Regions from separate parts of the Homo sapiens genome. Here all the other regions are linked to region 1. Evidence: fine-mapped expression QTL. A gene starts in region 1. Each other region holds a variant in brackets. All regions are shown on one strand. Distances are between the middles of the regions.

Region 1 (7,764 bases):
AGGCAGGAGAATTGCTTGAACCCGGGAGGTGGAGGTTGCAGTGAGCTGAAATTACACCATTGCACTCCAGGATGGGCAACAAGAGCAAGATTCTGTCTCAAAAAAAAAAAAAAAAAATGTATAGCCTATCACTAAATCAATGTCATTTCTCTAAACCAGTGAGAATTCCTAACAAACACCGTTTGTAATCACTCCTCTCCTGATTTGTCCTTTTTTCTTTAAAAACTTGAACTTCTCCTATGCTCTCCAAAGTACTTCCCAGTGTTTCCCAGGGCTACAGTCCTCAACCTTGGCCCCAGTACACTCTCTACATTCATTTTGCTACAGTTTCTTTTTTTAGGTTGACAATCCTCAAGGCTGACCTTCTGACAGGGTACGATTCAAGGTCACTGGGAAGGAAGCCCAAACCATCTCCCTTAGAAATCCATCCTGAAGTTTCTGTTGTCAGAGAGACATTCTCTCAGTTCAAAGCTTTTCCTTGTTAGGAATCTGCAGTCAGAATGCAAACACCCCGGAGTAGTTAGCGCTCATGGAGGATCAGTACTTCAAGCTATGTCACTTTATCACACTGTTGAACTCAGTTTCACAAACAGGTAGTGGGAGGGGCAGGGAGAGATGAGCATCGTCAGCCGCTGCGGTGGTTTGGAGCACAGTTTCTGGAGCCCAGGAGTGTGGGCTCGAAGCCTGGCTCTGCTGGGCTGTGTGGCCTTGGGCAACTCCCTGAGCTTCTCAGTTCCTTCACCTTTAGAATGGGGATAATGGGCCTGGCCTGGTGGTCCATGCCTATAATCCCAGCACTTTGGGAGGCCGAGGCAGGAGGATGGCTTGAGCCCAGGAGTTTGAGACCAGCCTGGGCAACATAGTGAGACCTCGTCTCTACGAAAAAATTTAAAAACAAGGCAGGAGTATCTCTTGAGCCCAGGAGGCTGCAATGAGCCGTGATTGTGCCACTGTACTCCTGCCTGGGTGATAGAGCCAGACCCTGCCTCAAAAAAAAAATTTTTTTTTGAGGATAATGATACCACCACAGGAATAAATGAGTTCACTGGTATAGAACACTTAGGACCATGCCTGGTCTGTAGTAGGTGTTACAAATGGGTTAATTAATCCATTAATTACAAATGAATATCAGTGAGGACCCGGAGAGCACAGAGGGGTGTCAGTTGCTCTAGGATACTCAACTAGTTGCTGGTGGAGCCACTCCACAAAAATGTGTCTTTATTTTCCAAAGCACTTCGGCATCTTTTTATTGAGGTGGGGAACTTTATTCAACAATCCTTTGTTTTTTTTTTGAGACAGAATCTCACTCTGGCTGGAGTCACGCAGGCTGGAGCGCAGTGGCACTATCTCTGCTCACTGCAAACTCTACCTCCCAGGCTCAGGCGATCCTCCCACCTCAGCCTCTAGAGCAGCTGGGACTATAGGCACGGTCCCCATGCCCAGCTAATTTTTGTACACTTTGTAGAGACCAAGTTTCGCCATGTTGCCCAGGCTGGTCCCAAACTTGTGGGCTCAAGCAATCCGCTTGCCTCGGCCTCCCAAACTGATGGGATTATAGGCCAGAGCCACTGCACCTGGCCCTCAATTCTTATGTAGTTGTAAAATACCTTGTTGTACCTTTTTCTTTTCCTAATCCATTTTATTTTTTTTTCTTTCAGACCAACAGTCTTTTCTTCCTGGCAGAAAGTCCTTGGTGCACATCTGATAGATGTCAGTGTTTGCCCTCTACATAGGAGAAAAGCAGGGCTGAGTGCAGTGGCTCAGGCCTACAATCCAAGCACTTTGGGAGGCTGAGGCAGAAGGCACACTTGAGCCCAGTAGCCCAAGACCAGCCTGGGTATAGTGAGACCCCGTCTCTTCAAAATATTTAAAAATTAGCCAAGGGTGGTGCTACATGCCTGTAGTCCCAGCTACTCGGGAGGCTGAGGTGGGAGGATTGCTGGAGCCCCGGACTTCAAGGCCGCGGTGAGCTATGATCCCACCATTGCACTCTGGCCTGGCCAACAGAGTAAGACCCTGTCTCAAAATTAAAAAAAAAAAAAAAGGAAAAAGAAAGAAAAAGAAGAGAAAAGGCCAGTGAGGCCACTGCCACACAACCACTGAGGGGCAGGCAGCTGGCTCCATACTGCCAGACGCCCTCCTCCCCGGACCGCGCAGCCTCTGTAGCCTTCGCCTGCCCCCGCATTTCTCCTTGGCTCCTACCTCCCCTCTCGGCTGCACTTAATGATTTCCCGGATTCTTACAGACCATTGGGATCGCTTCCTTCAGAGTGTTTTGGGAAGCCCAGCACGCCCCAGCTTTCTCCCCAAGGGGCAGGCTGCTCTCAGGAGCGGGAAGCCCATCCCCACCTTCATCCCTCTGGCCCAGAGGAGGCTTCCTTCCCTGGAGGGCTGAGGCAGCAGGCAGCTGGGTCAGCCCATGCCTCTCGCATGTGGCCATCTGAATCATTTCCTTTCGCAATGTGTTACTCAGTTTCAGGGCCTGCCACGTGGGGGTGTTTCCATTCCTTTCTGCAGCTGGACTTGGTGGACGTGGGGAACGTGGCAGTTGTGCCTTTCTCTGGACAGCGGAGGACCTCCCTGGACCCCAAACACCTAAGTCCTCATCACCTCCGTTTCTTTTCTATAAAATGGAGGTGATGACACTTGATTTGTCTAACACTTTCTTAGTTGTAAGACAAACAAGATGACCCAAGCGAAGGGGCTGAGTAGACTCCAAAGCAGTGCCTCTCAGTTGAGGGCTGGGAGTGGATTCTGCCCTCTCGGGGACATCGGTTGTCACTCCTGGGGGAGGGAGCTACTGCGTCTAGAAGGTAGAGCCAGGGACGCGGCTAAACATCTTATAACACACAAGACAGCCCCTACAACGAAGCGTTAGCCAGTGCCAAATGGAAATCACGCGGAGGTGGAGAAACCAGCCTAAAGAATGATTGAAAAGTAGTAACATTTACGATGGCCGGGCGCGGTGGCTCACACCTGTAACCCCAGCACTTTGGGAGGCCGAGGCGGGCGGATCACCTGAGGTCAGGAGTTCTAGACCAGCCTGGCCAACATGGTGAAACCCCATCTCTACTAAAAATACAAAAATTAGCCGGGTGTGGTGGTGCATGCCTGTAATCCCAGCTACTTGGGAGGCTGAGGTGGGAGGATCGCTTGAGCCCAGAAGGTGGAGGTTGCAGTGAACCTTGATCGCACCACTGTACTTCAGCCTGGGTGACAGAGCAAGACTCTGTGTCAAAAAAAAAAAAAAAAAAAAGCGAGAGAGAGAGAAAGAAAAGTAGTAACATTTACGGGGAACTCACTCTGTGCCAGGTACTTTACATGCATTATCTCATTTAATTGCTCCAGCACCCTATGAGGCGGTATGGTTATTACTCCCATTTTACAAATGAGAAAACTGAGGCACTGAAGAGTTAAAGAACTTACCCAAGTCCCACAGCTAGAATAGGATGGAGCAGGAATGAATCCTGGGGGCTTCTACTTCCCAGGCCCACTCTTTTTTTTTTTTTTTTTTTGAGATGAAGTTTCGCTCTTGTTGACCAGGCTGGAGTGCAATGGCGTGATCTCAGCTCATTGCAGCCTCTGTTTCCCAGGTTCAAGTGATTCTCCTGCCTCAGCCTCCTGAGTAGCTGGGATTACAGGCACCTGCCACCACGCCTGGCTAATTTTTGTATTTTTAGTAGAGATGGGGTTTCACCATGTTGGCCAGGCTGGTCTCGAACTGCTGACCTCAGGTGATCCACCCACCTCAGCCTCCCAAGACCCACTCTTAATCTATGTGCTACAGAGCATGTTTCCAGTCTGCCTATGGTGAGGGTCTCACATCCATGCCTGAACAAATGCTGTTTTGCAAAAATGTGCACTATCCTTCCTCCACTCCAAATATAAGCAGATGCTATTGTGATGAATAAATGCAAATTCTTATAAAGTGTTAATAAGTCAGTGTTACTTTTCTGACATTATGCATTTTCCTCAATCAAGGGAATCTAGAAAGTAAACTGCAATTACGTTGCAGGAGTCCATGAAAATCTTTCCTCTCTAAAACAAGGGAGCCTCAGGATCTAAAAGGCAGGAAACCTACGTGACAGATCTGAACTAAATTCAAATCAAGCAACGCCTTTTCTGAGTTTATCTTGCTTTCATGCAGCTCAGCTATGTTACTTGCTGAAAAAATTAACTGCCCTGAAGCCAAAAGCAAAACGAAAGCAGAGCGAAACATCTCACCAACCATAGAAGGATTTTGCAGCTAACATGTTTGGTTCAAGTTGGGACAAATGAATCCTTTGGGTCTCTTCCATTCAGTTACAGATCCTGCTGTTAAAGGCTGTTCCAGTAGAATGATTTCCACAGAGCACTTGTCTCTAAACCTCTCTCCTCCCTATAAAAGACCACCTGCTGGACAAGACTTTCCCCCTCTCCCCACCATAATCCCTCCCAACACAGAGTTCCCTCTGCAACACCAGGAGCCCCCCAGCGACTCTCCAGGAAGGCTGCACAGGCCCTGGCAGCCAAGCCTGCTCTTGGCCCCTTTCCCTGAGCAACACACTCACCCCTTCCTTCATGCTCTGATCCTGTTGCTCCATGCTTGCTCTGGAAGGGCAGAGTGCCGCTCACCTCCTTTTAGCCAAAGTAACGCGTGCACTGAATGGAGAGAGAAGACATTCTGGGTGCACTTTGGCCATGCCAAATAACAGCCAATAGCATTTTTATAGCCAGATTAAGTCAGAATAACCCTTTCAGGAACCTGGTCTTCCTTTCACTTCTGCTTTTAAATGAAACGTCTGGGGTTTGGCTAAGTAAGTGGGTGCCCCCTGGGGACTGCAGGCCCAGCATTGTCCTGATGGAACAGTCTACGGTATTTCCCCATTGCTAAAGTCTCTACCAGTCAGGCTCATGGTGAATGACTGGAAGGGTTATTTCTGTCAGGAACGCATGGCAAACAACAGCTGTCCTCCACCCTACATGACACCAGGTAATCTGAGGGCAACAGATTGGGCCACTAGAGACCTCAAAGATGCTCTCCCTGCCAGGAAAACTACAGTCAAGTGTCTCTTGGTGGAGAGTCAGTTTTGCCCAAGTCACCGTGTAATACTGTTTGGGGAAAGTTTCTCATTTTCTGTTTTTTTTTTTTTTTTTTTTTTTTTTTGAGACGGAGTTTCGCTCTTGTCCCAGGCTGGAGTGCAGTGGCATGATCTCAGCTCACTACAACCTCCGCCTCCCGAGTTCAAGCGATTCTCCTGCTTCCACCTCCTGAGTAGCTGGGATTACAGGCGTGCACTACCACGCTCGGCTAATTTTTATATTTTTAGTAGACACGGGGTTTTGCCATGTTGGCCAGGCTGGTCTCGAACTCCTGACCTCAAGTGATCCACCCTCCTTGGCCTCCCAAAGTGCTGGGATTACAGGCGTGAGCCATCGTGTCCGGCCTCTTATTTTCCATTTTAAGGAGCTCAGAATGACCTAGGGATGTTACTTTCTGTGTATTCATCACTACTGGGAAGGTGGTAAATACCTCGAACCCCTTTCCAGGCAGGGCAGGGAAAATGAGTCACACCTGCTGGTCCGGGTCCGGCCATCTCAAGGCCAGGCCACTGTCAGCCCCCCATGTTTGGCACTCATTCAGCTGCCACAGGGCACACCAGCGCAAGTGGCCAAAATCCAAAGTCTCACAAGTCCCACAGGTTTTCATCTTTACAGAACATACTCCCAGTTCTATTTGCTGTGGCGTAAATCCAGTTACTTTAGTGATTGATTCTGAATCTCATGCATCTTTAAACAAGCAGAGACTGGGAGCCTGTGTTAGGCACTGTTCCTTGCATTAGCAGCAAATCCCCAGGGTTGCTCAGGGTGGGAGACTGTGAGAAGCCTAGCAGCGTGGCCGTCTGTGTGTGTGTGTGTGTTGGGGGGTCGGGGGGGTCCCTATTCACAAGGGAGAACTCAGCATTCCCTTTCACCAGCTACTGCCTGTCTTTTTCTTCTGCGTATCACTGTCCTAGCACACTGACTTGTGACTAACGCATAGCAAGACCAGAGGTTTCCAATTATTTCAAAGATCTAGAAAAAGTTTCCAAAGAAAATGCACTTTAATTGCAGGGGTAGGGTGGGGAGAGGAAATCAACGATGGGGGAGTGAGGAGACGGGTACAGGTGTGCAATCCAACACAAAGAAGAATCCGGCCGGGCGCGGTGGCTCACGCCTGTAATCCCAGCACCTGGGGAAGCCAAGGTGGGTGGATCACCTGAGGTCAGGAGTTCGAGACCAGTCTGACCAACATGGTGAAACCCTGTCTTTACCGAAAATACAAAAATTAGCCAGGCATGGTGGCAGACGCCTGTAATCCCAGCTACTTGGGAGGCTGAGGCAGGAGAATAGCTGGAACCCGGGAGGCGGAGGTTGCAGCGCACCTAGATCACACCACTGCACTCCAGCCTGGGCGACAGAGCGAGACTCATCTCCGTCCCCCATCCTCCCCCCAAAAATAATCGTCCAAAGTTTGTAGTCATCAGTCATGTCAAGTGCATGACACCTGCTTCTATCTAGGCCCAGATCTTCCACTTCTCCCTGCCTTTGGGCGAGGGGGTAACTAAAACCGGGGGTCGCTGGGGGGGACGCGGACACTCCCAGTCCCCGCCTTGACGGCCCAGCCCGGGGAAGCGGGGACAGTGAGCCAGGCCCTCAGGCCCAGAGGGGATCATCCCGGGAGCTGCGGGCCGCAGTACCCGGTTCCTGCCAGTGACAGGGCGTCGCAAGCACAGCCATGGCGTCACCAACGCTCGACCCGTGCTTCCGCCCTGGAGGGAGCCGAGCGCGGGGACGGGGGCGTGGCGGGAGGCCGTCATGACGCCAGGCTGCGGGCCGCTCAGCCAGTCCCTCTGCCTGGCGGGCCTGCGGGCTCCGGGTGGGTCCTGTCCCTGCCCAGGACCCCTCTGCCTCAGCCCGGATCCCCCTCGGCCTCTGCCTCAGCCCGGGTCCCCCTCGGCCTCTGCCTCAGCCCGGGTCCCCCTCAGCCTCGGTCCCCCTCTGCCTCAGCCCAGATCCCCCCCAGCCTCAGCCCGGGTTCCCCTCCGCCTTTGCCCGAGTCCCCCTCAGCCTCACCCGGGTCCCCTTCAGCTTCTGCCAGAGTCCCCCTCAGCCTCGCCCGGGTCCTGCTTCTGGCCAGGGACCCCCCAACCTTCGTGGCGGGCGGACCAGCCTCCAGGCCCCTGCCTCAGGCCGCCATGAGGCCGAGGCCTGCAGGCTCCGCGAGCAGGGCGGGGTGGGAGACTGTGAGAAGCCTAGTGGCTCAAAGATGGAGGAGGGGGATGGCAGCGGTGAGGTGGGACTGGGGGGAGGGGAGTGGTCCTGGCAAACCTGAGGCAAGAGGATCGCTTGAGCCCAGGAATTCGATCATGCCACTGCACTCCAGCCTAGGTGACAGAGCAAGACCCTGTCCCTAGAAATAAAAAAAATTAAAAATTAAAGTTCCATCTGGATGTCCAGAGGTGAACTGATGAGGGGACAAGAGACCGCTGGATTTGGAAGTGGGGAGAAGGAGCAGTGGAAGGTCTTTGCCGTAGCCCAGGTGAAAGAACAATGTGACTTGGACCAGCATGGGGATGGAGAAGACAGAAGTAGATACACTTGAGGGATATTTAGGATGGAAAATTGACAATCACTTGGTGATAGGATGGGGGAGAGGAAATAGGAGCGTTTCTGTTACTGTTATAATAAAACACAACTAGGCCAGGCGTGGTAGCCTGTAAACCCAGCACTTTGGGAGGCTGGG
Region 2 (7,764 bases), 25 kb after region 1:
CACCTTCCCCGTTTGGGTGCCACTCATAATGAAGCCCCCTGACCATCACAGGAGGAAATCTCTTCACAGCTGGCACTGCCCATGGAGGAATGAGGGTCCCTGGGATTCTTCACCCCCACATCTAGTGAGTCCATGGAACCCAGGGTAATTTGGACAGTATCCATTAATATTACTTCCTTTCTTTTGGATACTGGGGCGAGCCTATCAGTATTAACTGAATATGAAGGCCCATTAGAACATTCATCCGTTTCTGTTGGCGTGAGGGGCATATAAGAAACAAAACACTGCCACTATACTGCTCATTTCAGGGAGTCACCCTCACTCTTTTTTGGTCATTCCTCACTGTCCCACTCCTTTATTAAGAAGGGACATTCTACACAAACTAGGGGGAATCATTCATTTATTGGCCCTAAACCAAAGCCACTCTTATATATTATTATGTCAAGAACAGACCCCTCCTCAGACATTCAACATCAAACAGACTTAAATCCCAAATTCCTCAGCCAAGTAAACCCCATAGTATGGAACACTGACTTCTGCATAATAGCTACCCACCATTCTCCAATCCAAATTTCACTGAAGAATCCTAAGCACTATATAGTGGTCCTACAATATCCCCTCAATCCTGAATGGATTACGGGGACTCAAGCCCATCATCTCTCAACTTTTGGCTGCCAATATTTTAATCCCCACCCATTCTTCCCACAATAATCCTATTCTCCCAATTAAAAAACAGGATGGCTCCTATAGACTGGATCAGGATTTGCGACAAATCAACTCCGCTTTTGTTCCTGTTTATCCTGTTGTCCCCAACCCCTATAACCTCCTGTCATGAATTCCTCCCAACACTAGCAACTTCTCTGTAATAAGCCTTAAAGATGCCTTTTTTACTATCCCTCTACATACCTCCTCTCAAAATCTTTTTGCTCTCACTTGGACTGATCCTGACACAGGCTGCTCCCAACAACTCACCTGACTGTCCTCCCCCAGGGGTTTAGGGACAGCCCTCACTATTTCTGTCAGGCACTTCAATTAGACCTCTCCCAACTACCTCTACAACCTAGCATTTTGCTTCAATATGTGGACAATTTACTCCTTTGCAGCCATTCCCTAAAATATTGTATTCAACACACCACCAAGCTTTTAAATTTTTTGGCTGAATGGGTACTAGGAATCCAAAAGAAAGGCCCAATTAACATCTCCGAAAGTTTCATACCTAGGATTAATCATAACTCCGAATATCCAGGATATTCTGTCAGCACAAAAGCAACGTGTTCAACAAATCCCATTTCCTAAAATAAGAAGGGACTTACTTTCCTTCCTCGGATTAGTGGGCTATTTCTGAATATGGATAGCAAATTTTGCCATTATTGCTAAACTCCTTTATTAACACACTAAAGGAAATCTTGACCAACTACTTACTCCCATCCCAGACCTTCTATCATGCTTTCTTGCACCTAAAACATGCCTTATTACAGGACCCCGCTTTAGGCCTTCCAAATCCGCTAAGACCTTTTCATCTATATTTACATAGTTCTCATAATCAGGCCCTTAGACTTCTAGCCCAACCCATGGGAAACTCCCTCCAACCAGTGGCATATTTTTCCAAACAACTGGACCCCGTTTATAAAAGCTGGCCTCTTTGCTTAAAATTTTTGGCCACAGCTTCAATAATTACACACAAAAGCTCACGTTCTATGAACCTCTTCAAGTATTTCCTTCTCACAGTCTACAAGATATGGTCAGCCATAAGGTGCTCATCTCCATCTCATCCTCTCATGTGCAAGCCCTATATTCAACTCTCTCAACCCTCTATCTCTCTTCATGATGCCCCCTGTTAATCCTACCACTCTTACCTTCAATGCCAATTTTAAACCCTGACCAACACTCATGCTCTAATCTAATTGAAAGTTCTCTCACCATGTTTTACCACCTTACTTCCACTCACATAAAAGGAGTCCCAGATTGGTTTATAGATGGGAGCGCATCAAAAAACCCTCCCCTCAAAGCAGGATATGCCATCATTGGAGGGTATCATGATAATATCCACTTTCTCCCACCTAGAAAAGTCACAGAGGCTGCTCCCTTGCCTTTGGGCACACCCTCCCGACAAGCAGAACTAGTTGCCCTAATAAGAGCACTAGCTCTAGCAAAAACACACACACTTTAATATATACACCGATTCTAAATATGCCTATAACATTATTCATTCCAGTGCTCAAATTTGGAGTGAGTGGGGCTATCTCACGGCTCAGGGAACCCCTATCATTAATGAAAAACCCATCCATCATCTATTAACGGCAGTTCTACTTCCAGAAAAGGTTGCAGTTATCCATTGCAACGTACATCAATCGGACAAAAGCCACATTTCTTTAGGGAACAATGAGGCTGACTTGGGTAAAACATGCCTCAACCAATCACCCAATTCCCCAATATCTATTTCCCCTCATACAACATATCCCCTCTTTTTATCCAGAACACCAAACACAACAACTAACCACAGTGGGGGCACAATTCAAACCCTACATACTGGTTCATACAAAACAAATTAGTCCTACCTGACCCTGAATAAACAACTCTTCTACGGGACATTCACAACCTCTTCCACACTAGCCATTTCCCTCTACACCATTTCTTAAGTTTCCATATACACTTAACCCCAGATATAAAGGAAGAGTTAAAAGCCATTTCCCATCAATGCTCTATTTGCCAAAAAGCTTCACCCCACTCCAATACCCCCTTCTTTCCCAACCCACCAAGCCAGAGGACACCTTCCAAAACAGGATTGGCAAATTGATTTTACCCATATGCCCCCAGTAAAAAGGGTTCAATTTCTTTTAGTTCTGGTTGATACCTTTTCGGGATGGGTTGAGGCCTTTCCCACAACAAACAAACGAGCTTCTACTGTCGCCTCCAAATTAATAACAGAAATCATCCCCAGGTTCAGGGTGCCTCTTTCTTTTCAATCTGATAATGGTCCTGAATCCATTTCTCAAATTACTCAAACACTTGCAGGAGCCCTACAAATCACCTGGAAGCTATGCATCCCCTATCAACCTCAGTCTTCAGGAAAGGTTGAGAAAATGAACGGCATTTTAAAAAACACCCTCACCAGGTACTCACTCCAGACACATAAAGACTGGGTTACCCTTTTGCCTTTAGCCCTTCCAAAAATTTGGGCGCTCCCACGTAAGCCTCTAATGCTCAGACCCTTTGTACTCATGTATAGGAGACCACTCGCCCCTTTTGCTGCACCTCAGGGTCAAGCCCCACCTCTACAAACCCCTCTCGTTTCCCCTCTTCTGCATACCATCCGCCATTTCATTTGGGAATACGCCGACAAATACTTGCCACAACCCATCGCCAACTCCTTTAATCCCTTCCTACAGCCAGGAGACTGGGTTCTAGTAAAAGATCTCAGCCCTACCCCCAATCCCCACCTCACACCTAAATGGAAGGGACCTTACCAGATCATCGTTACTACACCCACAGCAGCAAAACTCCAGGGACTCCCCAGCTGGTTTCATCATTTTTCTCTCAAGAAAACAGACTTCCCTTCACCACATACCCAAACAACCAAATCTAAAACCCCTTCAGCCTTCTGTTACATCTCCACAGGACCAACTTCCCTTCGCCTCACCCAAATCCTGGAGGAAAAGGAGGAGGAGTGCACATAAGCCGCTTATGTCTCTTTGTC[TC/T]CCAAACTTTCATCACTTCCTAACCAACCTTACTACAGACCATCAGTGGTATGCTTATGAAACTCCCACTGTACATCCTGATCAGCTCCTCACTATTCTATGGGACCTATGGCTTCAAGGAGCTTTCCAGGACTTTACTCTTACCCAAATAACTTTTTTCTCTTTTTGCTTGTTTCTTTCAATATAAATTCCCTAATCACATCAACCTCACCAATACAACCACTCCTTACTGCTCAAACTAGAACGCTCTATAAACCTTACACAATCTCTCTTGTGGCAAGCTAACTGTTCCTTTTTTTCGGAGACCTGGATGTGCTTACCGCTGTCTTCCTCAGCTTACACAGCCCTTCCTGCACCCCTTCATGACCTTTTAACAGGAAACATAACCCTAATCTATCAACTCCAAAAAGGAGCTTCGTTTTTGGAAAAAGCTGACATGCTGGTCGGCAATTATCCCATTTCCAGGGCAGATCAGGCCAACAAATTATTTCAAACCGATTACAACTCCCTAGAACACCTTAAGCCCCAAGGCCCTCCCATTGAAGGGCCCATAACTAAACACACGCCCCTTTTACAACAAGCCTCAATTTGCTTTTCAGCCTCTGGGGGAAGTTTCCCTGTAGGGTTCTTAACTTCTAACTAATGCAGCCACACTATCATTGTTAAGCACCCCTCTGACCATCACACTCACCCGGTTGACTACCAAGTATTGCCTGAAGCGAACGGAGCATTCCTGCAACGGCTCCTTTTACTGCCCCTCCCCCTGGCCTAACCTCTGCTTCCCCTAGTGCCCACATTTTTCCGTGGCTCAGTATCAGTGGCGCAACATCTGACCACATTAGATGTGTAAAAAAAACTCCTCCAGATGGGCACGGTGGCTCACGCCTGTATTCCCAGCACTTTGGGAGGCTGAGGTGGGCGGATCACCTGAGATTGGGAGTTCAAGACCAGTCTGACCAACATGGAGAAACCCCGTCTCTACTAAAATACAAAATTAGCCGGGCGTGATGGCATGTGCCTGTAATCCCAGCTACTCTGGAGGCTGAGACAGGAGAATCGCTTGAACCCAGGAGGCAGAGGTTGCGGTGAGCCGAGATCGCGCCATTGCCCTCCAGTCTGGGCAACAAGAGGGAAACTCTGTCTGAAAAAACAAAAAACCCTCCTCCTATACTCCTCCTATATCTCTACTATAGTAGGTGTGTCTCCTTGGCCTCCTCCTTGTCCACCTGGAGTAATGAACCACAGGAAAGGAAAAATATCCCATCTTTAATTCACTTATTTTCTTTCCATATCTCTGCCTATATTTACGACAAAGCCTTATTCTTTTTGTGTGGCACCAACACATATCTTTTTCTCCCCACCAACTGGACTGGAACCTGTACCCTAGTTTTTCTGTCTCCCACCATTGGCTTAGTTCCTCCTAATCAGCCTTTATCCATCCCATCCGTCCAGTATGTTAGAAAAAGGAGGGCCATCCAAGTCATTCCTTTAATGGCCACCTTAGGTATAACCTCTGGGACTGGGTTGGGAGCAGGAGGATTACCCACCTCCTTAACATACTTTAAAGCTCTGTCAACAGACCTGCAGGATTCATTAGAAGATATGGCCCAAAGCCTTATATGAGTCCAAGACCAATTAGACTCCTTGGCTGAAGTAGTCCTCCAAAATAGACAAGGGCTAAATCTTATAACGGCTGAAAACTGGAGCCTCTGCCTCTCACTGGGTGAAGAATGTTGCTTCTGTCTCAACCAATAGGGCCTAGTAAGAGATGCTGCTAAAAAAACTTAAAGAAAGGACTAAAAAGCTAAGAGAATACCAAGACAACCAAGTAAATTCTTGGTTTAAACACAAAATCCTAACATGGGTCATCCCATTCCTGGGCCCTCTCCTAATAATATGCCTAGGACTAATGTTCTTACCCTGCTTAATGAACCATTTTCAAAGCTTTTTAACCAACAGGATCATGGCCATCTGACAACCAACTACCCAAAAACATCTACAATGGAGTTACTCCTGTAATTAATCCGAAACCAAAGAACTCTCCGCCCTCTGCCCCCCAGCCCTCAGCAGGAAGTAGCCAGAAAGAACACGCCGCCCCTCATCCTTTTTATAACTATAGGGACTGGATTGACAGAGCAGGAACATTGCCATCTTGAACAAACACCGCCATCCTACGTTCCCGTTGATGGATGAAAAACCGCCTAAATCCAGCCCCAGAACATCAGCCTAATGGCCAATATTAGCATAACTGGAAACATTCCAATGCTAAGATAAACCCCTCTCTGACCAGAAACATGCCAACCCCAAGACAGCCTCCCCTCTGACCAGAGACATTCTAACCCCGCAATAAATTTTCCCTCACATAGAAACATTCTGAACCTACAATAAGCTCACCCACCTTCCAAAAAACCCTTAAATATCCTTAGTCTGTCAGAGAGAAGGGCTCTCTGACCTAACTCAGCCGGAAGCCCCTCTCAGGTTTGTTTTCTCTAAAATAAACCTGTCCTTAACTGTCAAGCCACATTTTGTGTTTCTTTCTTGTTTCTTTAAGTCTTACAGTGCTGAGTCCTCCTCTGGGTGGGGCCACAGGATGGGTTGAGTCATGAGTCCAGGTAGAGTTAGCCATCATCAGAAATACAAGTCTGAGACATCTCAAAAAGCAAATCTTAGGTTCTACAATAGTGATGTTACTTACGGGAGTAATTGGGGAGGTTATAAGTCTTGTGACCTCTGGAACAATGGCTGGTAGTCATTTACCTATGCCTACATCTTAGCAGAATTCAGGCCCCTCTCATAATCCTAACCTTGTGGACTTTCATTAGTTTTACAAAGGTGGTTTAGTTTTGAGAAGGGCTATTATCATCCTTGCTTTAAGGTTAAACTCTAAACTAAATTTCTCCCAAAGTTAGCTTGGCCCATACTCAGGAATGACCAAGGACAGCCTGGAGCTTAGAAGCAAGACAGAATCAACAATGTTGGATTTCTCTCACTGTCATAATTTTTGCAAAGGCAGCTTTAGAAGCATTAGATTTCATTTAAGCCTCAATATCACCCCATTTTAGATGAACCTGTGGCTGAGTGAGGTCAACATTTTCTCAGAGTAATACAAGGATAAATAATGGGCCAGGTACAGCAGCTCATGCCTGTAATCCTAGCACTTTGGGAGGCTGAGGCAGGTGGATCACCTGAGGTCAGGAGTTCAAGACCAGCCTGGCCAACATGGCAAAACCCCATCTCTACTAAAAATACAAAAATTAGCTGGGCATGGTAGCATGTGCCTGTAGTCTCAGTTACATGGAAGGCTGGGGCAGGAGAATCGCTTGAACCCAGAAGGTGAAGGTTGCAGTAGGCCAAGATCACACCATTGCACTCCATCCTGGGCAACAGAGCAAGACTCCGTCTCCAAAAAAAATAATAATAATAAATAAATAAAAGATGGAGTCCACTTCTCGGCCTTGTGGCCAAGATCAAGTATAATAAACAATGGAGCCATAGTTGGAACTCAGTCTCTCTCTTTCCAGAGCCTCGTCGTTCACAAACCTGGTCGTCGGGACCCACCTGCTTCTCGTTTCCTTGGAGAATCAAAGCCATCCCCTCAGCTTGTCTACTGTAAGATGACTTGATAAACACACGGCTGCCTTCATCAATATCACTTCACTATGCCCAGGAGATTCTTGTCCTGCAAGACAACTGCTGCAAATAACTTTATGGTTCACTCCAGGAACTTCCTGGAAAGATTCATCAGCTCTTCAATAGAAAGCATCCAATGATAGCTTAGACTCAAAACTCATTCAACTAGCCACCAGCAAATCCTCATCATGCTGTGCTCACATGTGTGAAAGGATTACATCACGACTTGCTAATCCCAAGAAGGCTGAAAGACTCATCTGAAACTATATGTTTTGATCTTCAAAAATATGGACTAGGCGTGGTGGTTCACGCCTGTAATCCCAGCATTTTGGGAGGCAGAGGCAGGTGGATCACAAGGTCAGGAGTTCAAGACCAGCCTGGCCAACATGGCTAAACCCTGTCTCTACTAAAAATACAAAAATTAAATTAGCCAGGT
Region 3 (7,764 bases), 54 kb after region 1:
GAAAGCCAGACTCCAAGTCGGCTTCCTTCCCACTCAGAGGCCGTTAAGGGTTCAATTGTGTCCCCTACAAATTTCATCTGTTGAAGTCCTAATCCCCAGAACCTCAGAATGTGAGTGTATTTGAGAGATAGGGTCTTTCAAGAGGTGATTAAGTTAAAATGCAGTCATCAGAGTGGAACCTAACCTAACAACCTCTGTGGTCATAACTTAAGAGGAAAGGCTGGGCATGGTGGCTCACACCTGTAATCCCAGCACTCTGGGAGGCCAAAGGATCACTTGAACCCAGGAGAGTTTGAGACCAGCCTGGGCAACAAAGTGAGACCCTGTCTCTACAAAAAAATACATAAATTAGCCAGGCGTGGTGGCACACACCTGAAGTCCCAGCTACCCAGGAGGCTGAGGCGGGAGAACCGCTTGAACCCAGGAGGTTGAGGCTGCAGTGAGCCGTGACTGTGCCACTGCACTCTAGCCTGGGTGAGAGTGAGACCCTGCCTTTTTTTTTTTTTTTTTTTGAGATGGAATCTCACTGTGTCTCCCAGGCTGGAGTGCACTGGCGTGATCTTGGCTCATGGCAAACCTCCGCCTCCCAGGTTCAAGCGATTCTTCTGCCTCAGCCTCCCAAATAGCTGGGATCACAGGCATCCACCATTACACCCAGCTAATTTTTGTATTTTTAGTAGAGACGGGGTTTCACCATGTTGGCCAGACTGGTCTTGAACTCCTGACCTCAGGTGATCCGCCCACCTCGGCCTCCCAAAGTGCTGGGATTACAGACGTGAACCACAATGACCGGCCAAGACTCTGTCTTCAAAAAAACAAACAACAACAAAAACAAGAAGTGATGAGCACACAGATCTTTACAAAGGGAAGATCAAGTGAAGACGCAGGGAGAAGATGGCCATATACATGTCAAGGAGAGAGGCCTCAGGAAGAACCAGTCCTGCCCTCACCTGGACCTTGCACTTCAGCCTCCAAAACTGTGAGAAAATAAATTTCTGTTGTCTAAGCCCCCAGGCTGTGGTACTTTGTTAGGGCAGCCTGAGGCTTTCTACAGACTAGGCGGGAGAGACATGTGTCCTGGCAGGCGGTACTATCCCAGCTCCTAGGGCCCCCAATCTCAGAGGTCAGGGATGACTTGGAAACTCCCTACCCCCACAATGCCCAGATTGGCAAAGCTGGGCCGGGACCCTCCACCAGCTCATGGAGGAGAAAATGACAAAAAGCCATTCATACTTGTCAGGAGCTTAGCCCTTTTTGGAACTCAACACCTTTTAAGTGTCCTCCAGAGAAAGGAAGTGGAAGTACTGCCGGGGATTAGCCAAGCAGTGAATAAACCATCTGCGAGACCTGAATTCCCCTGCGTGGTGTCGTGGTGTCGGTCAGATGACCACAGGCAGGCCACTTGTCCCCAGGACAGCAATGCTCTCGGTTTCCCTGCCCTTCAGAGCGGGTCCTTGGGAGTTCCCAGCGCTGCCCAACCGGGGATCTTCTGTTGTGTGGTTCCTGGAACCTGTCCCCACCAGAGTCAGGGTGGGGGCACCTGCAGACAGGGAGACACACCTCCACTTCACACACAAATGGACAGTTATATTGAAAAGCAGCCCACTGGTTTTCAAAGACCCTTAGGATGCCATCCCTGCTGCCAGGAAGGGGTCAGAGGTTAGACTGAAGGGGGCTCAAGGCAGAGTCTGCTCAATCACCTGCCCCCACCCTGGGATTCCTGTACCTTTTCCCCACCCCAAACTTCATCCTTCCTACAGATCTCTGGGGGCTGGCACCTGCCAGGAGGAAAACAAGCAGGTCCCTTCTCTGGGCCAAACACAATGCCTGGTGTAGGTACCATGAGACCTGGGGATGTTAACATAACTCAGAAAACGCTTTGAGAACCAAACTCTTGTGCAACAATATGCCAATTTAAAAACCTCAGGACAGAGCAGGGCTGGGGGAAGCCCAGCTGTAGGGAGTGAGGCCTGGTGAGAGGCTGCCTGGAGGTTTCTTCCCTGGGAACAATGGACACTTATTGTCCAGCTCCAGCGGCAGAAGGGTCAGGACTTGGGAGAAGTTCAGGGAGTCAGCCCCTAGGCCAGGCTACCACGAGGTCACTCTGCAGCTTTAACTGCAGAAGGGGAGAGGAATGTCTAAAGGAACTCGCAGATGCACACTCATGCCCTAGTGCCACCGTCTGTAGCCCTCAGCTCAGGGATGGGCAGCCTGAGTTCTCACACCTCCTGCCAAGTTGCTGGTGCTCAGCGCTCTGCCATGAGCTTCCTGCTGCACACAGGGACACAGCGCTGCCACCTTCACCAGTCACCTCAGAAAACTTTTATGGGGAAATAAACGAAACCAGTTCAATGATTGATATTTTCAGGAGTAGTGGCCGACATGGGGTACTATTCATGTGGCCACTGCATCCATCCCTCATTCAGATGCCACTGCCTGGGGAGACGGGCCAGCTCTGCCACTGGCTTGTCCTTGCAGTGCCACGGTGAGCTCGTTTCAAATTAGAGAACTCAGGCCAGGTGCGGTGGCTCACGCCTGTAATCCCAGCACTTTGGGAGGGCGAGGTGGCTGGATCACATGAGGTCAGGAGTTCGAGACCAGCCTGGCCAACATGGTAAAATCCCGTCTTTACTAAAAATACAAAATTAGCCGGGAGTGGTGGCGCACGCCTGTGATCCCAGCTACTTGGGAGGCTGAGGCAGGAGAATCGCTTGAACCTGGGAGATAGAGGCTGTACTGAGTAGAGATCACACCACTGCACTCCAGCCTGGGTGACAGAGCCAGACTCTGTCTCAAAAAAACAAAACAAAACAAAACAGGCCAGGTGTGGTGGCTCATACCTGTAATCCCAGAACTTAGG[G/A]AGGCCGAGGCAGGTGGATCATTTGAGGTCAGGAGTTTGAGACCAGCCTGGCCAACAGGGTAAAACACCGTCTCTACTAAAAATACAAAAAAATTAGCCAGACGTGGTGGTGTACGCCTGTATTCCCAGCTACATGGGAGGCTGAGGCAGGAGAATGGCTTGAACCCAGGAAGTGGAAGCTGCAGTGAGCCGAGATTGCGCCACTTCACTCCAGCCTGGGTGACAGAGCTAGACTCCATCTCAAAACAAACAAACAAAAAACAAATTAGAGAACTCTGACAACCTTCCAGCTCCAGGCCCAGGTTTCCCCTTTTTGCTACGTTGGGACTTCCCACTGCCCCCAGAGCAGGGTTTTTATGGCAAACATGGGGGGTCACAGACTCTTGCTTCCTCTGTAACCCTAGAGGGTGGATGAACGTGTGTGTGAGAGGCACGGGGGCTAGACCCTGCTGGAGTCATACCCACACCTGCCCCCAGCTCAGCGGGGCCAGAAGAAACTCAGAGATTCCCGAGATGAACCGGCTCGGCCAGGACGCTTCCTTCTGACCCCCAAATGAGCTGTCCCGACCCTTTAGCAGCCCCCCTATGCTCACAGGCCATACAGCTGATGCCTGGCCCCATGGAGGTCCTGGTGGAGGGGGTGGTCACCTCACCCCTGCTGACCCTGGTCTGGCATCACGCTGGCGCCCACCACCGTGAGGGGAGGAAGGGCTGCGCCACTCTTGGAAAGGCAGGTCCCCTTATGTGGGAGGTGGGGAAATGACCCCCTCCACAGCAGCTCTGGCCTCCCTCAGGTGGGCGTGGTAAACACACAGCCACTCAGGCACACCACATGAAAGTCAAAGACAAGGACGTCTGTGGGAGCCGCCTCACCAGCTAAGACAGAGTAGAAAGGGACTTCTTAAACACAGGGACTTCCCCTGAACATTGAGTATCTCACACAACCTTAAAAAAGCAACTGCCACCAAAAAATTCAAAATGCTGTCAGAATCAGTGGACACGAAACGCTTGGGTGAAAGCTGGAGACGTGATAGGCTTTCGAGCCACCGTTGTCTCTCAGCAAGACACTTCTTAACTACAAAAGGGAAAAGAGTTAACTTGCAGTGCAGGAACTTGGCAGATATCACCTTAGCCCAGTGATGAGAGTTAACATCACCAGTAAGGGAATATGTCCAAGTTGCTGGCCACCAGGTAGAAAGCAATGAGAAAAACATGTTTCTGGGATATCCTGCCAAACATGCACAACCTGAACCCACTTATGAGGAAGCACCAGACAAACCCAAATTGAGAGGCTTTCTATAAAATACCGGGACTGTACTCTTCAAAAATGTCAGTATCATAAAACACCAAGAAAGGTGGGAGAACTGTTTCAGATGGAAGGAGAATAAAGATATATGAAAATTAAGTCAACATACAAGCCAAGATTTTCCTTTGCTATCAGGGACACTGTTAGTCCACGGACAAAAATCTCAATAAAGGCCAGCTGCGGTGGCTCACACCTGTAATCCCAGCACTTTGGGAGGCTGAGGTGGGTGGATCACTTGAGGTCAGGAGTTTGAGATCAGCCTGAGCAACACGGTGAAACCCCATCTCTACTAAAAATACCAAATTAGCCAGGCATGGTGGCGCATGCCTGTCATCCCAGCTACTTGGAAGGCTGAGGCAGGAGAGTCACTTGAACACGGGAGGTGGAGGTTGCAGTGAGCCGAGAGATCGCACCATTGTACCCCAGCCTGGGCAACAAGAGTGAAACTGTCTTGGGTGGGAAAAAAAAAAAATATATATATATATATATAAATAAAATTTATATATATATTTATTAAAATATATATTTAAATATATATTAATTTAAATATATATTTAAATATATATATTTAAATATATATTTAAATTAATATATATTTAATTTAAATATATATTAAAATATATATATTTAATTTAAATATATATATTTAATTTAAATATATATTTAAATTAAATATATATATTTAATTTAAATATATATTTAATTTAAATACATATTAAAATATATATATTTAATTTAAATACATATTAAAATATATATTTAATTTAAATATATATTTTAAAAATATATAAATTATATATTCAAAATATATATTTAATTTAAATATATATTTAAATATATCTAATTTAAATATATATTTAAATATATTTTAAATATATATTTAATATTAATGTATATTTAATATATATTTAAAATTAAATATATTTTAAATATACATTAATATTAAATATATATTAAATATATATTTAATATTAAATATATATTTAATATATATTTAATTTTAAATATGTATTTATATATAATTTTAAATATATATTTAATATTATATATTTAATATTATATATATTTAATATTAAATATATATTTAATATTATATATATATAATATTAAATATATATACAAATATTTAATTTTAATTGTTTTGAGATAGGGTCTTGCTCTGTCACCCAGGCTGGAGTACAATGGCACAATCTCAGCTCACTGCAACCTCTGCCTCCTGGGCTTAAGTGATCCTCTCATCTCAGCCTCCTGAGGAGCTGGGACTGCAGCCGCACACCACCACACTCGGCTAATTTTTTAAATTTTTTGTAGAGACAGGATTTTGCCATGTTGCCCAGGCTGGTCTCAAACTCCTGGGCTCAAGTAATCCATCCACCTCAGCCTCCCAAACTGCTGGGACTACTGGCGTGAGCCACTGTGCCCAACCTAAAAATAAATTATTGTTGAAATTGTATCTCAGTTTTTAAAACCTGTTACAGCCAAAAGACAACATAGACTCCTAAAAGGAGTCTTGGACTGGGTCAGAAGTAGATTCTAACTCTGAGCCTCTCCTTTACTGAAGGGAGACTCCCTGAAACTATTGGTATGGCATAAAAGATGAAATGCTCCTGATTATTGTAAATACAAAATTGCATGCAGGATTGTGTAAAGACAATGCCAGGTTGGACTGCCAGAATGAGCCAACAGCGCGTGATGTGCTTCCCCCTGCAGAGAGCCTATGAATGGACGTGCAGTCAGGGAGGTTTCACATCACCAAGATTCCTATCCCAGAAAAGCAGATGTTCATAGCTCTGGGAATGGAATGCGACCCTTGTGGAGAGCCTATAAACGGACTCATGGGGTGTGCCTGTCCATATGGACAACATAGGGCTATAAACGCCCTCACCTATAAACACCCCACGGCTCTTCTAGGCCTCTTTAGGGTTATGGCATACTCCCTTCTGAGAATTTCTGGTCTAACTGGTTGTCTAGCTTCACCTCCCGTTGCTATGGATTGTTTGTAACCAGCTTTTGCTGCAACTGTTACTGCTGATTAATATCTTGCTAATCATAGGTTATGGAAAGACTGTATTTCTGTTTTAAGGCTCTGTTAGAAATTACTGATGCACACACTATATTGTAAATTCTTATCCCTGTATACTGTACTTCTGCATACAGATGTTATGTTAAAGAATTACTTCATCACCATGTGACCGTCTCACCTCATAATCAAATGACCCTAAATCCCTCACTAACCTACCCCCGCCCTCACTAAACTTAATAATAAATGCTGGTATATCCAGTGCATTGTTGGCACCGCGGGCGACCCCCCTGTTGGACCCAGCTTTCACTATCTTGTGTGTGTCTATTATTTCTTGACCTGCCGATCTGCCTGGGAACAAAGAGAGAGCCCCATTGCATTGCCGGCTGCTGGCCAGATCCCACAATACCTTACTAGCTATGTAGCCCTGGGCCATCACATCTGCTATGAGGGTAATCACCCCACCCATCCATTCTGTTGGGTTACTTTTTTTTTCTTTTTCTTTTTTTTTGAGACAGGTCTCACTCTGTCACTCCGGCTGGAATGCAGTGGTGGTCTCGGCTCACTGCAGCCTCAACCTCCTGGGCTGAAGTGATCCTCCTGCCTCAGCCTCCCAAAGTGCTGGGATTACAGGTGTGAGCTACCACTCCTGGCCCTGTTGGGTTATTGGTGATTAGTGAGCTAATGAATGGAACAGCACTCTGCAAACATCAGGGGCCAGACACAGCTCATGCTGAAATGTGATTTCCTGAGGATGAGGTCTAAACTGCCCTCCTCTCTCTGTAAAGGGGGCCACGCAGGTGCTCTCCTGGGAACTTGTGCACGTGCAGGATTCTCTCTAACCTCCTGCCTTTATGTGGCTGTAATCAGTGTTAGCGATGGTTTCTGTCACTTCGCATTGAATCATATCATTTAAAAAAATGACTTACAGAATTCAAAACCAGTATCAAAGAGCTGCATACCATTTCAGAAGGGGAGGGTAGACTCTTAACTTCCTGTTCCCCCACTGTTGGACCTTGAGGTCACTTCCAAATTCTCACCATAAGTGCCTCACAAACACCTTCGTACATACAGCTTTGTACATATTTTAGATTATCTCATTAGACTAGGCTTTGGTAAATAGGATTATTGGATCAAGGGGTATGAACCAAATACTTTCTACAAAGACTATTTCAATTCACACCATCAATAATACTGTAGAAAAATGCCAGTGAAACTCGCATTTATCATGTTTGTATTCTGCCTTTTTTTTTTTTTTTGATATGGAGACTTGCTCTATCACCCAGGCTGGAGTGCAGTGGCGCGATCGTGGCTCACTGCAACCTCCACTTCCCAGGTTCAAGCGAGTCTCCTGCCTCAGCTTCCTGAGTAGTTGGGACACGCACCACCACACCCAGCTAATTTTTGTAATTTTAGTAGAGACGCGGTTTTGCCATGTTGGCCAGGCTGGTCTCAAACTCCTGACCTCAAGTGATCCGCCCACCTTGGCCTCCCAAAGTGCTGGGATTTACAGGCATGAGCCACCGTGCCCAACTCTGCCTTACTATTTTTTTCCTTCAAATTAAATGAGGAAATGGT
Region 4 (7,764 bases), 29 kb before region 1:
GGCTTAAGCAATCCTCCCACCTCAGCCTCCAGAGGCCCTCTTCGAGATGCTGGGGATTCAGGCATAAACAAAACTGACCAAGCCCCTGCCCTCAAGGAACTGACACTCGTGCAGTCAAACTGCCTGAAGTGGCCGGGCGCAGTGGCTCACACCTGTAATCCCAGCACTTTGAGGGGCCTAGGTGGGCGGATCATGAGGTCAGGAGATTGAGACTATCCTGGCCAACACAGTGAAACCCAGTCTCTACTAAAAATACAAAAAAGTTAGCCGGGCGTGGTGGCAGGCGCCTGTAGTCCCAGCTACTCAGGAGGCTGAGGCAGGAGAATGGTGTGAACCCGGGAGGTGGAGTTTGCAGTGAGCTGAGATCGCACCACTGCACTCCAGCCTGGGTGACAGAGCGAGACTCCGTCTTAAAAAAAAAAAAAAAAGCAAAAATAAAAACAAAAAAAACACTGCCTGAATGAGCAGGGAACTTCCTCCTGCCTTCTACTTGCTCAAAGAACAGCAGCACGTCTTGTTGAAAAGTGATCAGGTTCATTTTATTGACTACACAGAAGCAATTCCATTTTCCACTAACAAAATAATTTAGGATGAAGAATTCTGACTCAGTGTCTCCACAGGAACCTGTTCCTCAGCTTTCTGGATGTCATTGTTTCTGACATCACACCTTCCTAGACAGGTATTTCTGGAAAAGGATCTGGTAAGAGGATGAATTTGGCTCTAAACAAATGCCCATGGCCCCGGAAGACCTGTCGGGGCCACCAAGTTAGTTTCTCTGGCAAAATTTGATTCCTTCCATCTCACCACTATAGTAACTGTTGTTGTTATGTTACCAGGAGCCACACAAAGGTTGACCCATCAAGGTGGAGCCACGTTACCAGGAGCCACACGAAGGCTGAACCAGCAAAGTGGAGGACCAGCTGTTTAATTGACTCGGGTCTGGTGACAGGCCAACATGGAGAGAGACAGCCCAGCTTCAAGAACAGCAAGGCAGCCCTTTGCACAGTTCCCACTGGGGTGGGGAGGCTGGAGATGAGGACTGCATTCCACATCAGAGTTGTTTTATTTCTGGATATTCACAGACAGCTAGAAGTCAGAAAAATAAGCCAAAGTGGGAAGCCCCTGGCAGACCAGCTCCACTGGCTTCCTCTCCAGAGTCACTGTTCCGAAGTGACAGGTGGAAGCTCTTTCAGTTCCTCCTTTTCCGGGTACACTTCAGACACCTTATTCATCTTGGTGAAAATCTGGTTGATCTCTATGAACGTCTTGGCCTTGGTCTCCGGGACAATCAAGAAGATGTAGATGGTGGTGAGGAGGCAGATCACGGCGAAGACAATGAAGCTGTACGGGCCGAGGCCCTCCTGCGGGAAGAGGGGCAGGTGACACGTGTGGGACGTGGTTTGCCCAGGGGCTCGCACTGTACTGCATGGGGATCTGGTGGTGAGCGTGGGCCCCGGGCCCCACTCACCTGGATGAACGGGAAGATCAAGCCCACGGTGAAGTTGGAGAGCCAGTGCACACTGCCCCCCACCATGAAGGCAGATGGCCGAGAGGACTGCAGGAAGATCTCAGTGATGAGCAGCGCGGGTATGGGACCTGTAGGGGGAGGAGAGCAGCCTCCCTGAAGGCAGAGCGGGCCCGAGCATCCCAGGCCTGGCCATGCAGACCCACCAGGTAGCTGGCCCCAGGACAGAGGCGTCTCCAGGACTCTTGGGCATGTGGGGCAGCACGTAGGGGGCAAACGGCAGTGTACAGGGATGGCAGGCCAGCAACCACCCGTTAGGCCCACTCTGCTGCCTGCACAGTCTGTGTGTTCCCACCCACACCACCATTTTACCATTTCGCTCTCATTATGTGCCACCCACCCCCTTGCGGTGGACGGGGGAAGAGATGCCATTTCCAGGCTGCATTGGCCATCCCTGGTATCTCTAAGGAGCTCCAGCCCGGAGCTTCTGGGACCAGGGGGGGTTGTGACACCCTGAGGCCAGCTTTGGGTACGTACTGGGCCCGAGGGCATGTCCTATGACGTAGGAGATGACACAGACGATGCTGATGTATGGCATCCAGGACACTGTGTCCTGTGGAGAGAAAGCAGTTGGTTCACCTGGAGCAGACAAGCTAGGACGGGACCCCAGGGGGCGGCCAACCTGCCCTGGTGGGTGGAGGATGGCACCTGGCTCCTCCCCCAGCAGTGCCACCTCGATGAGCCACTGGGAAATCAGCTGAACGTGGGCTATGAGCTGGCAGGACACACGGTCCCCAGATGTCTGGCCAGTTGTATTTGCTAAAACAGCTCATTGTGACCCCTTTTATTTTAAGGCAGGTGGAGGCGCAGGATGGGAGGGGCACTGGTCTTCCTGGTGCAGCTCCGGGCTCCTGGGACCCTGGCCTGTCCTCACCTGCAGTGCCAGAGCTGCAGTGAGCACGCAGCAGGCTATGAGGCAGATGGAGAAGCCCAGCAGCAGCAGCAGCCTCCGACCCAGGAGCTCCACCACGAACACCTACAGGAGGGTGGCAGGGCTCAGGCGGGAGAGGCCCAGCTTCACCTCCCTCCAGCCCCCTCCAATGGGGCAGCTGTGAGGAGAGCTGGGCGGACCGGGTGCCCACCCATGTGCACGCACACTCACATTCACATGTGCAAGACATGCCCTTGGGCAGCCAGCGGGAAGTCGGCTGTGGCTGTGATGCGGGACCCCAGCTGCCCACCCTTGAGACTCAGCTCTAGGGCCTCCTAATCCCACAACCCTGAGCCTCAGGATTCCTGCCCTCGGGAGGCCAGATGTCTGCATGCACCGGAGACGCTGCCCCCACGGAGCCTGCTCCCATCCCGAGGTGGCCGAGCCTCACTCCGGGTAGCCCGGGCTCGGAGCCACCCAGCAGTGGGCGCTGCCTGGTCCAGGCACGCCTACATCCCGGTCAGGTGGTGGCCCCGGGCCCGGTGCGGCTCGGCAGCCCCAAGTGTGAGGGGCTGGTGCGGGGCCACCTCCCACACAGAGTTTCTGTAGTAGCGGCTGGTCCTCCACGTTTTGGGGCCACGGGCTGCCCTTTTGGCGGCGCCGAGGCTGGGGCGTGGGGCCCGAGGGGCCTTGGGTGGAGGCTGTGGGCAGCTCCCAGGACACTCACGGCGCAGAAGGTCATGACCACGTTCACGGCCCCGGTGCCGGCCGTCACGTACTGCACGTGCTCCTCCGGCACGCCGGCGCTCAGGTAGATCTGGTCCGCGTAGTAGTAGATCTGCA[A/G]GGCAAGCGCGGGGCTGGGCGGCTGCCCGGAGGAGGCGGCCTCGGCGCCAGGACCCACGCCCGGCGCCCCAGGACCTGCGCCCCGCGCCCCCCGAGCCCTCCCCAGCTCCCGAGCCGCAGCCCGGCCCATACAGCGTTGACGCCCGACAGCTGCTGGCCGCCCATGAGGACGATGATGGACAGCAGCTGCCAGCGCAGCGAGCGCATCCGGAACAGCTTCAGCACGGAGATGAAGCCCGCGGCCTTCTCTGCCTCATCCTCCTGCCGGATCTCGGCCACCTCCCTGTCCACAGAGTCCCAGCCGCGCAGCGTCTGTAGGGCTGGGGAGAAGCGGCACCGTCGGACCAGGGCTGGGGAGCAGAACCTGGAGGCCGCCCCCGCCAGAGCCCTCGTTACCTTTCTTGGCGGCCGCTTCGTCTTTCTTCTGAATCAGCAGGTACCTGGGGCTCTCGGGGAAGAAGGGCAGCAGAAGGAGCTGCAGCGCCGCGGGGACCCCGGTCAGCCCCAGCAGGATCGGCCAGCCTGGGAGGAAGGCAGCGAGCTGGCACCAGCGGCCTCCCCACCACCCCGAAGGCGCCCTCTGCAGAGCCGGCCCCAGCCCCGTCATCCTGAGTGGGGTGCAGGCTCCAGGAGGGCACAGCTTTCCCAGCCCTAAGAACAGCAACTCCCGACGGTGGACACTCGGGAAACACCTGCAGCAGGGATCAGCAGCGACGCACCCCTGCGCCCATCAGACAGACCACACCGACGAGGCCGGTAATACCATGTGCTGGTGAGAACGTCCCCGTGTCCTTCAGAGGACAGTCTTGCAGGGGCTGGAGGAGCTGGGCATACCCGGCCTGACCCAACTGCCCACTCCCAGCTCTATGCCCAGAGAAGCCAGGCCACCAGGATGCCTGAACTGGAATGGTCACGGCAGCTCTGATTACAGAAAGGACACCAGAAACAGTGGGAATATCGTTAACATTCCACATAGAGGGGACACATGGGCTGGCTGCATTGGTACTGCAAAGGCAAAACTAGAGGCAAAGCAAAAAAATGAAGCACAGAGCTTCACAAATGCCTAGAGGGCCGTGTGTGGTTCTGAGTCCTGCTATGGAGCTCCCTGAGACAGGAACCTGGCTTATTCACTTCTGGTCCCAGCTCCTAATGAGAACGCGGCGCCTTGGCGTAAGTGTCCCCAACACATGCAGGAGTGAAGGAGAGGCAGGAGCATGTGGTACTTAAACAGGGACCTAGGTCTGTGCCGCTGGGTCTGCATCCTCATGAGACCTTGGACCAGTCTTCCAATCTCTCTGTACCTGTGATGCACCTGCAAAATGGGTATGATACTGGTACAGGCTTAATAGGGCTGTTCTGAGGAATACATGAGTTACTAAAAAAGACTTGGCACTTGGCTCACGGTAAGCACTTTCTACAGAGAGTGTCTAAGCAGCACAGAGCTTGATGATCCACTTGACTGACTTGCAGACGGTGTGTAGAACCCTGGCGGGAACTGGCTTATGTTTTGGCTGACGGGATGACTGATGATAGTTTAAAGGGAAAGTCGTGCAAAAACAACCCCGGTTACAGGTGTCTGTGCACCTGCCGCATGCCAGGCCCCAGGCTGTCTTGGGGAAGGTGGAGGCAGGGTCTGGGATGTCCTCACCACCTCCCCCATGGGGCCAGGCCACCCTCACTCCTGGTACTTCTCTTTCTGGTCTGCAAAATGGGATAATCACTGAGTCCCAGGCAGCAGCGTTGCTGGGAGGGTCCTATGAACTGATGCTGGGTCCGCCCCAAGCACAGAGCCTGGCACACTGGTGGCTGTCATTGCTATGCCACGGGCCTCCATATGGACAGCTGCTGAGCAGGCAGGGAAGCCCATCACTCAAAGCCACCTCATCCATCTCCTAAGAGGGACTAGATAGTAAACGCTGGCCAGTCCCTTATCGCGCCTTTGTCCATGGCCTGCTATGTTGGCTCGGGACAGGATGGGCCCCCCAAGGACATCCAGCCTGTTAGAAGAGACCAGTCTGCAGAAAGTCCTGTCCTGTGGTGGTGGCTTTGGAACACAAGGAGGGGGCCAAGGGTAGTGGTGAAGGGGTGGGGGTGCTCCCGAGATGTCCTGAACTCACCATCTACGTTTGCAAGGAGATTCCGAAGACCAAAGATCTGGGCCACAAGGATGCCAACAGTGATGAAGAGCTGGGGCACCACCCCGAGAGCCCCCCGCAGGTTTTTAGGGGCCAGCTCCCCTAAGTACATGGGGACCACGTTGGAAGATACACCTGGGAGGAGGTGAAATAGAAACACCATCAGAAAAAATTAGTCTGGCAGGGACAAGCTGTCTTCAAGTATACTATTCTTAGCAATAACATTATTTGGGCCAGAACTCTCTCAAAACTGCAAAGGAGAAAGCAAACACCTCTTTTAATTCTTAGCCCTTTATACTTTAAGGAAAGAGAAACAGATCAAAGGAGCTCATGCACAGGGGCCCTTGCTTTGGCCCATATCATCTGGGGACACTGGCCAGCTGGATCTACGGCCTTCCCGCTCCCTGGCCTGAGTCTAGACCCACTCACGTTTCTGCTTTTTGAGGAGGGTCTGTTTCATAAAAGGCAAGGCAGCTGGGTGTGATGGCTCGTGCCTGTAATTTCAGCACTTGGGGAGGCTAAGTGGGGAGGATAGATTACTTGGGGTCAGGAGTTTGAGACCAGCCTGGGCAACATAGTGGAACCGTTTCCACTAAAAATATGTATATGTGTGTGTGTGTGTGCGCGCGCATGATATATATGGCCTGTGTGTATTTACATATGGTGTGTATGTCTGTGTGTGTATGGCCTCTGTGTGTGTGTGTGTATGTGTATATGGACATGGCCTGGTGTGTGTGTGTGTGTGTATATATATATGGCATGTGTGTGTACATATATATATATATGGCCTCTGTGTGTGTGTGTGTGTGTATGTGTATATATATGTGTGTGTGTGGGTGTGTGTGTGGCCTGGGTGTGTGTGTGTGTGTGTATAGGGCATGTGTATGTGTATGTATATATATGGCATGTGTGTATGTGTGTGTATGTGTGTATGGCCCAGGACCCCTAGCCCCCAGCTTTACCTTATAGGAACAGTAAATAAACCAATGCAGAGATAGTTTCATACACCTTTAAGAACAAGTTATATGTCTCTATAAGCATTTAAAATGTCAACACATATTACGGAATATCTGCATTTCTGGGATTTCTGTAATGCCTGGACTACTTCTGAATCCCCAGTATTTAAACTTGTAAATATTCCCATCATACTTGAATCTGGTGGAGGGAAAACTTACTCTATTTTATAGAATGACGTGTTGCCTGATGTCAATTAAAAAAACATAGGCAGAATTTAATTTTGCAGCTTCCAAAGTATTTTCACATATATTGCCCTATTTAATTCTCCTAAAAGCACATCCAGAGGCTGGGGATGGAGAGGAAGTTTCACTAGTCCAAGTATCAGGTACCAAATCCTGAGTCAAATGGAGGCTCAGGGACGTGGGTCTCTGAAGGGAGGCTCTCAGGAACAGAGTTTGGAGTGAGCAGAGGTTGGAGCTGCTGTTGATGGCGGGGTATTTGATAGAACTGAGATAGGAGGGTACCTGAGGCCATGTTTTCCTGTTTGGCAATTCTACCCACAGATGTCTCTGCTCAGTATTTGAAAAGAGACATCACAGTTCATTAATATCGATTCTTCCTCATTTGCAGAGCAAAGAGGGGCAGTCTTTAAAGCAGCTCTTAGCATGTCTAGGTGGGAAGAGGGAGCAACACCTCACAGGCCCAGGGCAAAGGGCTGCAGAGGAAAGGAAGGCCTCCTGGGAGCTGAAGTGGGAGGCTGTGTCCTCACCACTTAACAAGAGCCACTTAGCAGCAAGAGCATCTTGGTGAAGGATATTAATAAAGGGTCAAACCTCAGGAGGTTTGTGAAGAGATGGGGTTACCTGTACGTTGGTGGAAAGCAATCTCTATTTTTGTCTTTAAAATGACTCCACTAGGACCTCCCAGCCAGCCAGTTCTGATACGAGAATCAGAGCAAAGTGGCTTTTTTTTTTTTTCGAGATGCGAGTTTCGCTCTTGTCGCCCAGGCTGGAGTGCAGTGGTGCGATCTCAGCTCACTGCAACCTCTGCCTCCCAGGTTCAAGTGATTCTCCTGCCTCAGCCTCCTGAGTAGCTGGGATTACAGGCGCCCGCCACCACGCCTGGCTAATTTTTGTATTTTTAGTAGAGACGGGGTTTCACCATGTTGGCAAGGCTGGTCCTGAACTCCCGACCTCAGGTGATCCACCCGCCTCGGCCTCCCAAAGTGCTGGGATTACAGGCATGAGCCACCGTGCCTGGCCTGGCTTTTGAAGTTTAAATTCCTCCTGCTGGACACTGTAGCTCACCCCTGTAATCCCAGCATTTTGGGAGGCTGAGGCAGGTGGATCACTTGAGGCCAGGAGTTCGAGACCAGCCTAGCCAACATGGTGAAACCCCATCTCTATGAAAAATACAAAAAAATTAGCTGGGCA

Alleles and levels. Alleles are on the strand shown, and positions count from the first base shown. SD is a standard deviation of normalised expression in the study named. Not every link is listed here.
For the expression in prefrontal cortex of the gene that starts at base 4,681 in region 1, allele A in region 3 goes with a higher level than allele G (moderate effect, 0.57 SD a copy in GTEx).

What was found. PIP is the estimated chance that this variant, and not a neighbour inherited with it, causes the effect. A credible set is the group of variants that fine-mapping cannot tell apart.
Region 2: its variant is the best candidate, but not a certain one, in a credible set for the expression of SLC2A5 in whole blood (TOPMed, PIP 0.81).
Region 3: its variant is the best candidate, but not a certain one, in a credible set for the expression of SLC2A5 in prefrontal cortex (GTEx, PIP 0.53).
Region 4: its variant is the best candidate, but not a certain one, in a credible set for the expression of SLC2A5 in whole blood (INTERVAL, PIP 0.62).

What each region holds. Positions count from the first base shown.
Region 1 is chr1:9,064,955-9,072,718 of GRCh38, forward strand. It overlaps SLC2A5 (solute carrier family 2 member 5), which reads right to left and starts at 4,681. Exons shown (of 12, transcript NM_003039.3): 1 at 4,550-4,681. The coding sequence starts at 4,582.
Region 2 is chr1:9,089,774-9,097,537 of GRCh38, forward strand. It overlaps a transcript of SLC2A5 not described here. Among named protein-coding and RNA genes, the nearest start is that of SLC2A5, 24 kb to the left of the region's middle. The variant TC/T (reference allele first, on the strand shown) is at 3,698.
Region 3 is chr1:9,118,538-9,126,301 of GRCh38, forward strand. The region is part of intron 1 of GPR157 (G protein-coupled receptor 157); the gene reads right to left. Among named protein-coding and RNA genes, the nearest start is that of GPR157, 6.7 kb to the right of the region's middle. RefSeq lists enhancers at 3,084-3,584, 3,585-4,085. The variant G/A (reference allele first, on the strand shown) is at 2,861.
Region 4 is chr1:9,036,429-9,044,192 of GRCh38, forward strand. SLC2A5 (solute carrier family 2 member 5) reads right to left here. Exons shown (of 12, transcript NM_003039.3): 5 at 5,357-5,509; 6 at 3,636-3,761; 7 at 3,372-3,559; 8 at 3,124-3,234; 9 at 2,400-2,501; 10 at 2,003-2,078; 11 at 1,469-1,596; 12 at 1-1,361. The coding sequence ends at 1,158. Among named protein-coding and RNA genes, the nearest start is that of SLC2A7, 14 kb to the left of the region's middle. RefSeq lists enhancers at 767-836, 1,277-1,356 and a silencer at 3,568-3,768. The variant A/G (reference allele first, on the strand shown) is at 3,240.